Regions from separate parts of the Homo sapiens genome. Here region 1 is linked to region 2. Evidence: fine-mapped expression QTL. A gene starts in region 2. The other region holds a variant in brackets. All regions are shown on one strand. Distances are from middle to middle.

What was found. PIP is the estimated chance that this variant, and not a neighbour inherited with it, causes the effect.
Region 1: its variant is the best candidate, but not a certain one, in a credible set for the expression of RPF1 in whole blood (INTERVAL, PIP 0.72).

The regions. Positions count from the first base shown.
Region 1 is chr1:84,518,193-84,523,580 of GRCh38, reverse strand. SPATA1 (spermatogenesis associated 1) reads right to left here. Exons shown (of 14, transcript NM_001397487.1): 3 at 2,890-2,996; 4 at 1,074-1,191. Among named protein-coding and RNA genes, the nearest start is that of GNG5, 14 kb to the right of the region's middle. The variant A/G (reference allele first, on the strand shown) is at 2,123.
Region 2 is chr1:84,477,053-84,482,440 of GRCh38, reverse strand. RPF1 (ribosome production factor 1 homolog) reads right to left here and starts at 3,175. Exons shown (of 9, transcript NM_025065.7): 1 at 2,932-3,175; 2 at 1,429-1,485. The coding sequence starts at 3,159. RefSeq lists enhancers at 2,599-2,758, 2,954-3,514.

The DNA of each region.
Region 1 (5,388 bases), 41 kb before region 2:
AACACCTCTAGTGCAAAGCACCTTGTTAGGCACTGGTTATAAATACAATGATGAATAAAATGAAGTCCCTCCCCACAAGGACCTATAATCTAATGGTAGAGTTAGATGTTAAGCAAATATTCACATAAACACATAATAATGATATAATCTGTTAATGAGAGTGAAATAAGAATATGCTGCATTTTAAAGAGTTTAAATATAGAAAATCTTGATTAAGGAAATAAAATTTATGTAGATATGAGAGACCAGAACCTTTGAGATCTGATGGCTTGTTAGATTTGAAACTTAAGCTAGGAATACTCTCTACTTAGAGTATCCTGCCCACTAAGTCATAGAAACTACAAATAGGAGTGTTCAGTAAATAATAGTTGACACCAGTCAGGCAAGGTGGCTCATGCTTGTAATCCCAGGACTTTGGGAGGCTGAGGCAGGGAGATCACCTGAAGTCAGGAATTTGAGACCAGTCTGGCCAACATGGTGAAACTCTGTCTCTACTAAAAATACAAAACTTAGCCGGGCGTGGTGTCGCATGCCTGTAATCCCAGCTACTCGGGAGGCAGGAGAATTGCTTGAACCTGAGGGGTGGAGGTTGCAGTGAGCCAAGATCACACTACAGCACTCTAGCCAGGGTGACAGAGCAAGACTCCGTCTCGGAAAAAAAAAAAAAAAGTTGACACCAAAAAAATATGTTGGAGCCATATCATTTTCACATCAAATGAGTCTAGTTGTGGCACAAGTGATGAGAACCCCATTTTTTCCCAGAACTCAAGTACCTGTTTAAAACACTTAAAAACTTTCATTTAAATTCAAGAACTTATATGATCACATTTTAAATTGGTATTTCTTTGCTTTGCAAGGAAATTCACACACAAAACCCATCATTTTCATGCCCAATAACATGCCTATGCAACTTATCTTTGTTGATCTGTATGTTTAATGATATTTCCATTTCATTTTGATTGAGATTACATATCTAATAATATCTTAAGGAGCTGAGTTGATAAGCATTTAAGAAATGTAATTTGAGAAGGTATGGTCTTTCTCAATCAGAAAGAAAAAAAAAGAAAACTTACCACAGCTAAATTATTTCCAATGCATTTCAGAAATAAAAATTTTTCTGCAATAGCATCTTCACCCAGGAACTCACCAAGACGCTCCCTCAGGGCTCGTAAAGTAAGTTGAGGAGATACTCTGAAATATTATAAAATTGCCTTATAATATAAAATGAAATAGATTTTGGATATACTAATGATTCAATAACTTTAGTCAGCTATCTCAAACACAAAGGTTGATTTAATGTGTCAGATATAGCTTAACATATTATGTTTCCACATTGCCGGCATTTTGTAGGTCTTCCATAAATAGCTCTTAAAATAAATAATTAAAAGTCTGCCTTTAAAATTATGCAAATAAACACTGTTTATAAATGTTTTGTACTGAAAAGGAAAACAACTGTCTCTTTGCTAATTTACTTCCAAATTTTATTGTTAAAATTTGCTGTGGAATAGATGTACTTTTATACATATACCAATGAATGATTTAGCCACAGATATTTATTTTGGAAGTTTGGCAGGAGTAGCTAGTGCTTAAAAATTTTTTAAATAATCTAACATTGTCAGAGTCCACATCTTTGCTTATTAGGGATACTTTGCTCCTGAATATCTAAAATTTAAAGCCATCACTTACGCTATCATCTGAGTTCTTGTTTTTCTGGGACCTTATGAGAAATATTAGGTAATTCATTCAATCAACACATATTTATTGAGCATCTACTATGTGTCAGACATTGTTCCAAGGGATGTGAATATGGCAGTCAACAAAATAAAAATCTCTGCCCTCATGGACTTTACATATAATCTAGTGGTGGGATAGAAAAATTAATGAAGTAAATAAGTAAAAAAATGTAATTCATAAGACACTACTAAGTACCACAGAGAAAAATAAGGCAGGGAAGGGAGAAAGGGACTGTATGAATGATTTAAAATACAGTGATTAGAGAATATCCACAGAAAAAGGTAATATGTGAGTAAAGACCTGAAGGAGATGGGAGAGCATATGGTTAGGGCAGAAAACTCATTCTAGACAAAAGGAACAGAAAGTACAAGGGTCCTGAGGTAGGGCT[A/G]TGTGTTCCAGAACAGAAAGGAGGCTGATGTGGTTGAAGAAAGAGATGATGAAGATTAGAAAGAGAGGTATGCGTAAGGAGTAACAACAGGCAGTCAGATCACATGGTATTATGTGTCTTTTTGTGAATTTGAAAATACACATCTACATACATATAAACACATGTTCTTTGTTTATATTTTTAAACAGGTCAGAGAAAGAGGCGTTGTAGATATATTGCTTTAACTGCTATTCTCAGATCAGCAGTTTTCCCTCCCTCCCTCCCTTCCTTCCGTTCTTCTTTCCTTCCTTCCTTCCTTCTTCTCTCTCCCTCTTTCTTTTTCCCTCTTTCTCTCTCTCTTTTTTGTTTTTGGCAGAGTCTCACTCTGTTGCCCAGACTAGAGTGCAGTGCTGCAATCATGGCTCACTGCAGCCTTGACTTCTGGGCCTCAAAGAAATCCTCCCACCTTAGCCTCCTGAGTAGTTTAGCAGATTTTTAATTTTAGATAACTTCTCTCTTAATTCACTTTGTGTATAACCATAATAATACACAGGTTATATACTGTTTTCTGGGTGGTAGTATTATGGCCAAGTGAGCTATTCCTACAGAACTGATTCAATTGTTACATAGCACTATATATTGATAGTATTCATTAAGTCAGGAAATGGATCTATCACGTGGACAAAATATTTTTCACTTATAGTTTTTAAATTTCCAAAAAGCATTTTTCTCTGAAGAAAACAGATTCTTCTTTCAGGCATATTGTTACATGACTACACAACACTTGCCTTAGAAATCCAGCTGAAATGAATTTGTTAACAACTTCTGTTGAAATGGTATTTAGCTTATAGTTCCATGATCCTTCAGGGACATAAAAAACATGAAGTTCCACCAACTGAATAAATTGAGAAGAACATCGGTTAAAATATTTTTAAAGTGAAAAAAAAAATCAATTGATGTCCTATAGAATTAAGTTTAATAAACACAATAGAAAAAAAACATGGAATACATACATCCCTCTGAACAAACAAAAACCAAAATGAACTAAAAATTTGTTCTTAAGTTGGCCACTTGGCACTTGGAGTACATTTTCCCTTGGCAACAATGTTATAGATGTGGCTATGAGATTAGCTCAACATCTTTGGCATATGGTGTTTTTTTCTGTGGCCTGCAGTAAGAATCCTAGGGCACCAAGACTAGTTTTCTTAACATCAACTTTACCTCACCTCACTCCCCACCTACTCAGTTCCATTGGGGTGATCCCCTGTGGAATCTTTATCCTTTGTATATTTTCTCCCTATTACAGTTCTGATGATTGCTAGCCCTCAGCACCTGCAAAAAGTTTAATACTGTGGTTTGGGGAATGTACTTATTCCCCAGAATTCCAGGAAGAACCTATTCCTGACCAATGAGAAAGGAATGATTGTTCTTACATTGGGCATGTCTATGCTTCTATGTAACTATCCACTTTTCCACTGATGTTTTGTTATGACCTTGATTAGAATCCTTCTATTTAGAAGAATATTTATATAACCACAACAGAAACAATGATTGCAAATATAGTCTTATCTTTTAGTCAAATTAAGTTTGATACTCCCTGCATATTAAAAGTCAAAGCATTTAAATGAATATTCTCGAATGCAATATTAAATATCTGAGAAACCTTTAAAAGTTTGAATATGACCTACTGTTAATATTAGTAATTTCATAGGAGATAAAAATAGTTCCTGAGCATAAGGTTTTCTTCAAGTTGTTTTTATAAATCAAGAAAATTACTTCTATGCTTTTGATGATGATTATTAACTAACAATTTAAAATGTCTGTATAGATCTGACAGTGAAGTTTTCTATACGTTGCATTTTGAACACTAGAGCACTTAAAAGATTAACCCCTAGCTATACTATTAAATATTTGCAAAACCTTAAGAAATTTGAAGTAAATATGACCTTATCTTTATATAAATGTATTAATATTTTACAGGAGGAAACTGTTTCTTGAACTAAATATTTATATATATGCTTCTTAAAAAAGACATTTTAATGGCTTTTTTCCAGAACAACAAAGTAGTTGAAAAAATACTGAAAAATTTTAAAGTACATATTAAATCTGACAATATTATTTTAAGGTTAAATATTCTATTTACACTCAAACGCTAATTTATTATAATCTTACCTTCCTGACTTTAATGGAAGCTACTCATCAATAACATTTTCATTAAAACCATTAGCTATTTTAAAAATACATTACAAGGTATGGCACATACTTTTTCTTTTGTCCCAAGTTTCAAAATGATTAGAGATGGCACTGTTGGATCCTGTCTCTATTTAAAATATGGATATCTTGTTCATCATGGATTTTTTTTGCATTAATTTTACTAAAAAAATTTTTTGGTAGCCCCTTAAATTTTTCATCTGTGGCAAGTACCTCATTTGCCTCAGACTAGTCCTGGCTCTGTGAGAAATATAGCCAACAAACAATAAATACTGACTTCTAAGAAGTACAATTTTTAAAATTTTTTAAAAATTAAAAAACAATAAACATAAAACACTAATAGGTAACATACTATATTATAAAGTGGTAATTGCTAGGAAAAAATAATAAGTAGGGCAGGGTAAAGAAGAATGGGAAGATATGGGATGGAGAAGTTTTCAGTTTTAAATAGTCAGGGTAGGTCTCATGGAAAAGGTGAGATCTGAGTAAAGACCTAAGGGAAAAGAAGGAATTAGCCAAGTGAAGATCTAGAGGGAAAGAGTTCCAGAAAGAGATAAAATAAAGGTATTAAGGTGAGAGCATGCCAGTATGATTGAAGCAGAGAGAGTAGGGGAGAGGGTAGAAGATAAGTTCAGAAAAATAAGGAGGTAGAGGGGAAACATACAGCACCTTCTGGGCCATTTTCACCTACAAAATGGGAAGCTAATGCATGGTTTTAAGAGAAACATTAAGATCTGACATATATTTTTATTTAATATGAAAAATTTTAAACATACATATAAATAAAAAGAGTAATTCTCTCCCTCTGAATAAAATATTCAAAGTAAACAGGACATCATGACACTATATCCCTAAATTATTTGGCATCCATATTCTAAAAATAAGGACCTCTGTAACATAATCACAATTTCATTTTCACATCTAAAAAAATTAAAATTCCTTAATGTCAATTAATATCCAGTCCATATTTAAATTTTCCCAATTGTCCTCGAAATATTTTCTTAATCTGGAATTCAAACAAGGATCACACAATGCATTTGGTTGTTACGTTTTTTAAAACTTTCATCTTGAAGAGT
Region 2 (5,388 bases):
GGGGGAGAAATTTGAACGAAGAAATACATAGTATCCCTATTTATAATGCAAATAAACAGCAAACAGGGCAAATGTTCAACAAGGTAATGACTAAACATACTACAGTACATCAACATTATGGAATACTGTTAGGATCAGCAATCATGCATACTCAGCTTAGACCAAGAAATGGTGTAAATGAATTGCTAAGAAGTAGAACACAGAATTGTAAGAGTACATTAAAACTAATTCAAAATATATGTACACTAGCAGAGCTATGAAGAAAATACAAACTGAAACTAGCATTTATTACTCTATGAAACAAATATTACATTTTAAGCATTTTTTAAAGGAGGCAATTTTAAGAAGTTATCTTTCATCTCAAAAAACAAGAATGGTGGTGTTTTCAAATGGTGATCATAACATTAATTTGCTGTAATAGACTGATTACAAAAGAATTAAAAAGAGACTAACATGCTTGACATACTAGGATACTGCAGGTCAAAACAGTCTACTATTGACAATTTTCTATGGTTTAACCTAATACTATTCAAAGAATGTATGAAATAGTAGAGTGTTTAGTTTGTATACTGTCTTTACATTTTTTTCCCTTCCTCAAACACCCTTATTTGGTAACTTACTTGAATGGGAGGCGGAGACATGAATGTTTTCAAAATTTTGCAAAAATAAATCACAACCTAGGAGTAACTATAAATACACTGAAAATAAAAATAACTTAGCTATGCAATAATGTATGAGCATTTAGTAGTTTAAAAAATTTTTTCAATAAAGATTTCACTTCTTATGAGTACCACAAATACAGCCAAATTCTTTCTTGATGCATTATCTGCTCTTTTCTCTGCCATAATCCTCACCGTCCTCCCACTCCCCATTCTCACTTTTCACAGGTTCATATCCTCTGTACCAGCTCTAAAGCTTAACACACCCTTATCACCCTACTCCAGAAGAGGATCTGTCCTGCCTTTCCCCAGCCTTGCCTGACCAAAAATCTTTGCTTCACATGACAAGAGCCAAGCTCCAGGCCTAACCTGGGGGAGCTTCCCCATTCCCAAAGTCAGGGAGAGGTGTTGACCTCTGAAACACAAAGTTATATGCAAAATACCACCACTGTGTTACCGTATAGGTACACAAACATACACAGTAAAGGTAAAAGAAGTGCATGGAAAAAATAATCAAAAATTTCACGAGTGGTTATCTTCGGAGGGAAAAGCAATTATGAAGCAGACGAGGGGCTTCCAACATTCTTTGCTAATGCATTATTTCTTAAGCTGGGTAAATGATACAAAGAGGTTTATTATATTACTTTTGTATTTCTTCATACATCTGAAATACGTAATAATAAATTTTAAAAGAAAGTAATTCAACTTAAATATCAGGAGGGATTCCCTAATATAAGATAGAAAGCAAACAGCTAAAAATTTTATTTACCTTATCGCCAAGAGCCTCTCTTTCTTTTTTAAGTTTTTTCTTAGCTGCCAACTTTTCCTAAAGGGTTAAAAAAAAAGAGAACAATACTGAGAAACAACCAGTTATATCACAAACACATACTGAAACTACAAATTACTAATGCTATGAATACTCGAACTGGGCGGTCTTTGTAATCTATTGAAATAAGCATCTGGACGTGGAGTTTTCTACCTAAATTACTGTAAGCCAAATGAGCTGGCCAATCAATAAGATTTCTTTAACAAAGACCTGCTCCTTTAAAAAAATCTAAACTGGCAAGTTTGAACATTTAAAATTTGAGTAGCTTAACCTTTTTCCATAAAGCCTCAAATTAATTAAAGTATGTGATGGTTTCCACTGTGTTTTGTTTTGCCTAACTGGTGGCATCCTAAAGACGACCATGGTTATGCTGCTTGCTTCTCTTGAAAAGCACTAAAAATAGGAATGGGAGCTGAGTTTTCAGGTTGTTTTCCATAAAACCATCACCAGTTATTCACATATTTTATAATCAAAATATACTTCTAAAATTTAGTAAGAGCTTGCAAGGTGGCTTAAGATTATCTGTATTTGTATTGTCAATCTATATATTCTTCTGGAGATTTCTAGATAGAATGCTTGACAAAATAAAAAATATTCTTTTTTCCCCAGCACCTACTGATCCTCAATCCACCAGGTTTCAGATTAGAAATCATAGCTCCAATAAGTCTTCCAGGACATCCCTCCCCAATACGTGCATACCAGAATGAGTTAAACGCCCCTTGTATGTATTGAAACAGCACCTTGACACTGAACATGAGTAAGAACCAGTCCCGGGCCTCAGAAGGGCCAGTAAGAGGAGGCAGACACATAATAATAATATTGTGTGAACTTCTACGATGTGCAAGAATAAGCAAACGTTTTCTTCCAATTGCAATTTAACCAGAAATGAGCACTGCGACCTTGACAAGTCGTTTAAACCTCTTTACGTTTCAGTTTGTTTACCTACCAGAAACGTATAAGGATAAAGCTGAAAAGAACAAATACAATTACCAGAAACTTTACAGTACTAATTTCGGTAAGGAGCTCCTGCAGGAATCAGAGAAGCAGTATTTTGGATTTATTACGTATTGCCTCCATTTCAGATTCTGCAAATTAACCAACGCTACCTAGACGGACCAAAGGGCTGAGACTTTTGCCTTCTGGGCCAGGAGGGCGTAGTTTTCACTACTAAGCCAACTGGCCTTACAGCTTTCCTTGTGAATCTAGCGTCCCAGGAAAGAGCCTATCAAGATAATCTTCCACCTTGACGCTCAGGCAAAAGGCTGAACCTAGAGTCTCCAAACTAGGGCGAGGGGACCAGAACACGTGGGCCGCGACGCCACCCTTCCCACGGAGCCACAGAGAACACTTTTGAGACCAGCAGACAACCACAGATGTGCGCCCCGCGACCGCCCTAAGCGTCAGGAACAACGCGCAAGCGCCCGGCAGCCCCCGCCTCTCGCGTACCTTCCGCTGCTGCTGTTTCCACCGCGTGAACATTAAGTGTCGCCGCTGTTTGTTTTTAATCTCCGAAATGCTAAAGCCTGGCGGAAAGGCAGCCGCTTTCGGGGGTTGGACCCCGTTTTCCGTCGCCCCATCCCCAGCGCCTGCAGCCTCCTGAAGTTCTTCGGCAGCGGCTTTCCGTTTTAGACTTTTCTTCCCGCTGCTGCTGCTCTTATCCCCGGCTTTCGCCATGGTCTTGGCTCCTTTGCTTCCGTACGGAAACGGAAATAGCCTTCTCCTGTGACCCCCTTCCTTAACCTTTTACTTCCGGGGTCGCAAAGTTTTTGACGCTAGATGTGTTTTGTGAGTTTTAGCCATTCAAGAAAATAGTAAAGCTGAGGCTTGAGGAAACTTTAGGCAGTTTGCCCAGCTGTATAAAGAGTGAGATGATGAGTTTGGGCACTCCTTGCGCATCTATGTGCCCAGCCCTCAAAATAATGGAACAACAACAAAAACCGTGCCTGGATTAGTTTACGTTTTACTTGAGGGAAACCTAAAATGAGCATACAAATAAATTATGGTGAGCTACAGAGTAAGACATGGTATGGAAAAAAAATAGAACAGGATAAAAGAAGATGAAGAGACATTCATCTTTTTGAGACGGAGCCTTGCTTTAATGCCCAGGCTGGAGTGCAGTGGCACGATCTCCGATCACTGCAAACTCCTCCTCCTGAGTAGCTGGGACTACAAACACGTGCCACCATGCCCGGCTAATTTTTGTATTTTTGCAGAGATGGAGTTTCACCATGTTGGCCAGGCTGGTCTTGTACTCTTGATTTCAGGTGATCTGTCCGCCCTGGACTCCCAAAGTACGTTGCAATTTTAAATAGGATTCTCAGAGTAGGCTTCATTGAAAACGTTACATTGAGCCAAGGTTTGAAGGAGGTAATGGGCTAAACTAGTTATCTGAGGGAAGAGCTGTTAATCTGAGAAAAGCTGGTTATCAAGGAGAAAAGCTGTCCTGGCAAAGCAAACAGCCAGCTCCAATGCTCCTAGTCAGTAGCAAGCCAGGAAAGGCAAGAAGTGTTGAGATTGGACAGGTGGTGTAGAGTTTTGTAAGGACTTTGGCTTTTATTTTATGTGAGATGAAGATCTCTTATAGAATTTTGAGGAAAAGAATGGTATGATCTTAACATCTTAAAAGTATCAGGCTGGTGCAGTGGCCCATGCCTGTAATTTTAGCACTTTGGGAGGCCAAGGCAGGAGGATTGCTTGAGCCTGGGAGTTCAAGACCAGCTTTGGCAACACTGTGAGACCCCATGTCTACAAAAAGTAAAAAAATATATATATCTGTTTGGGCATGGTGTACATCTGTGGTCCCAGCTACTCAGGAGGCTGAGGCAGTAGGATCCATTGAGCCTGGAAGGCTAGGTTGCAATGAGCCATGTTGGTGCCACTGCATTCCAGCCTGGGTGAGAGGGTGAGACCCTCTCAAAAAAATAAATAAAAATAAAGTAAAAGCGTCATTCAGAATCTTCTTTTGAGAAGAGCCTATGCAGGGGCAGGGTGTGTGGAAGAAGGGAAGAAATGATAGTGGCCTGAACCAGGGTAAGTCTTGTGTAGGTGGTTGAGAAGTGATTCCTCTGGAAGGTAAAGTTACTGATGGAACTGAAGGGAGGACATGAAAGAGTCAAGGATGACTCCAAGACTTTCGACCTGAGTGATTCAAAGGATGGAGTTACCATCAGGTGAAATGCGGGAAAGTTCAGATGGAACAAATCTGAGAGGTAAGATCAAGATTTCAGTTTTGGAAATGTTAAGTTTGAGATACTTTTTAGTGATCTGATTGGTGGTGTCAACTAGTCAGTTGGGATGTATGATTCTGCAGCAGGACAGAGAGGTGTGGGCTAAAGATCAAACTTTGGAAGTAATTGGCACATAGGTAGTATTTCAAACCATTAGAATGAGTGTAGATAGAAAACTGAAAAAAGAAGATCAAGGACTGAACCCTGGAGGAGTCCTGCATGAAGAGATGGAAAGAAAAGGAGGACCCAGCAAAGGAGAAGGAGAAGAGAAAATCAAGAGAGTAGAATGTCATGGAAGGCAAGTGAAGAAAGTGTTTTCCTAGTGGTTAAATTTGCTGTATTCTTCATTCTAATTTTATGAAAATGCTTTCCAAATAGCAACAAGAAATCCCTTTTGATTTACTGTTAGGAGTCAGTTTTCCAGAATCTGCCTTAATTTCAAATTTTATGTACCAATATCTATATTTCGTGTTTTGAGAATCCAATATGTTTTTGTCCACATTTCATTTTTCACCCATTCAAATTCTATTTAACAACAGCAGGATATTAAAAGCATCAAAACTGTGTCTTCCAGAACACAAGCTCCATCCAAACCTGCTATTAGATCACAAATTGAAAATTGTTGTTAAAAAACTTAAAATCATTATGTTTAGATCCAAAATTGGATTTAAGTTAT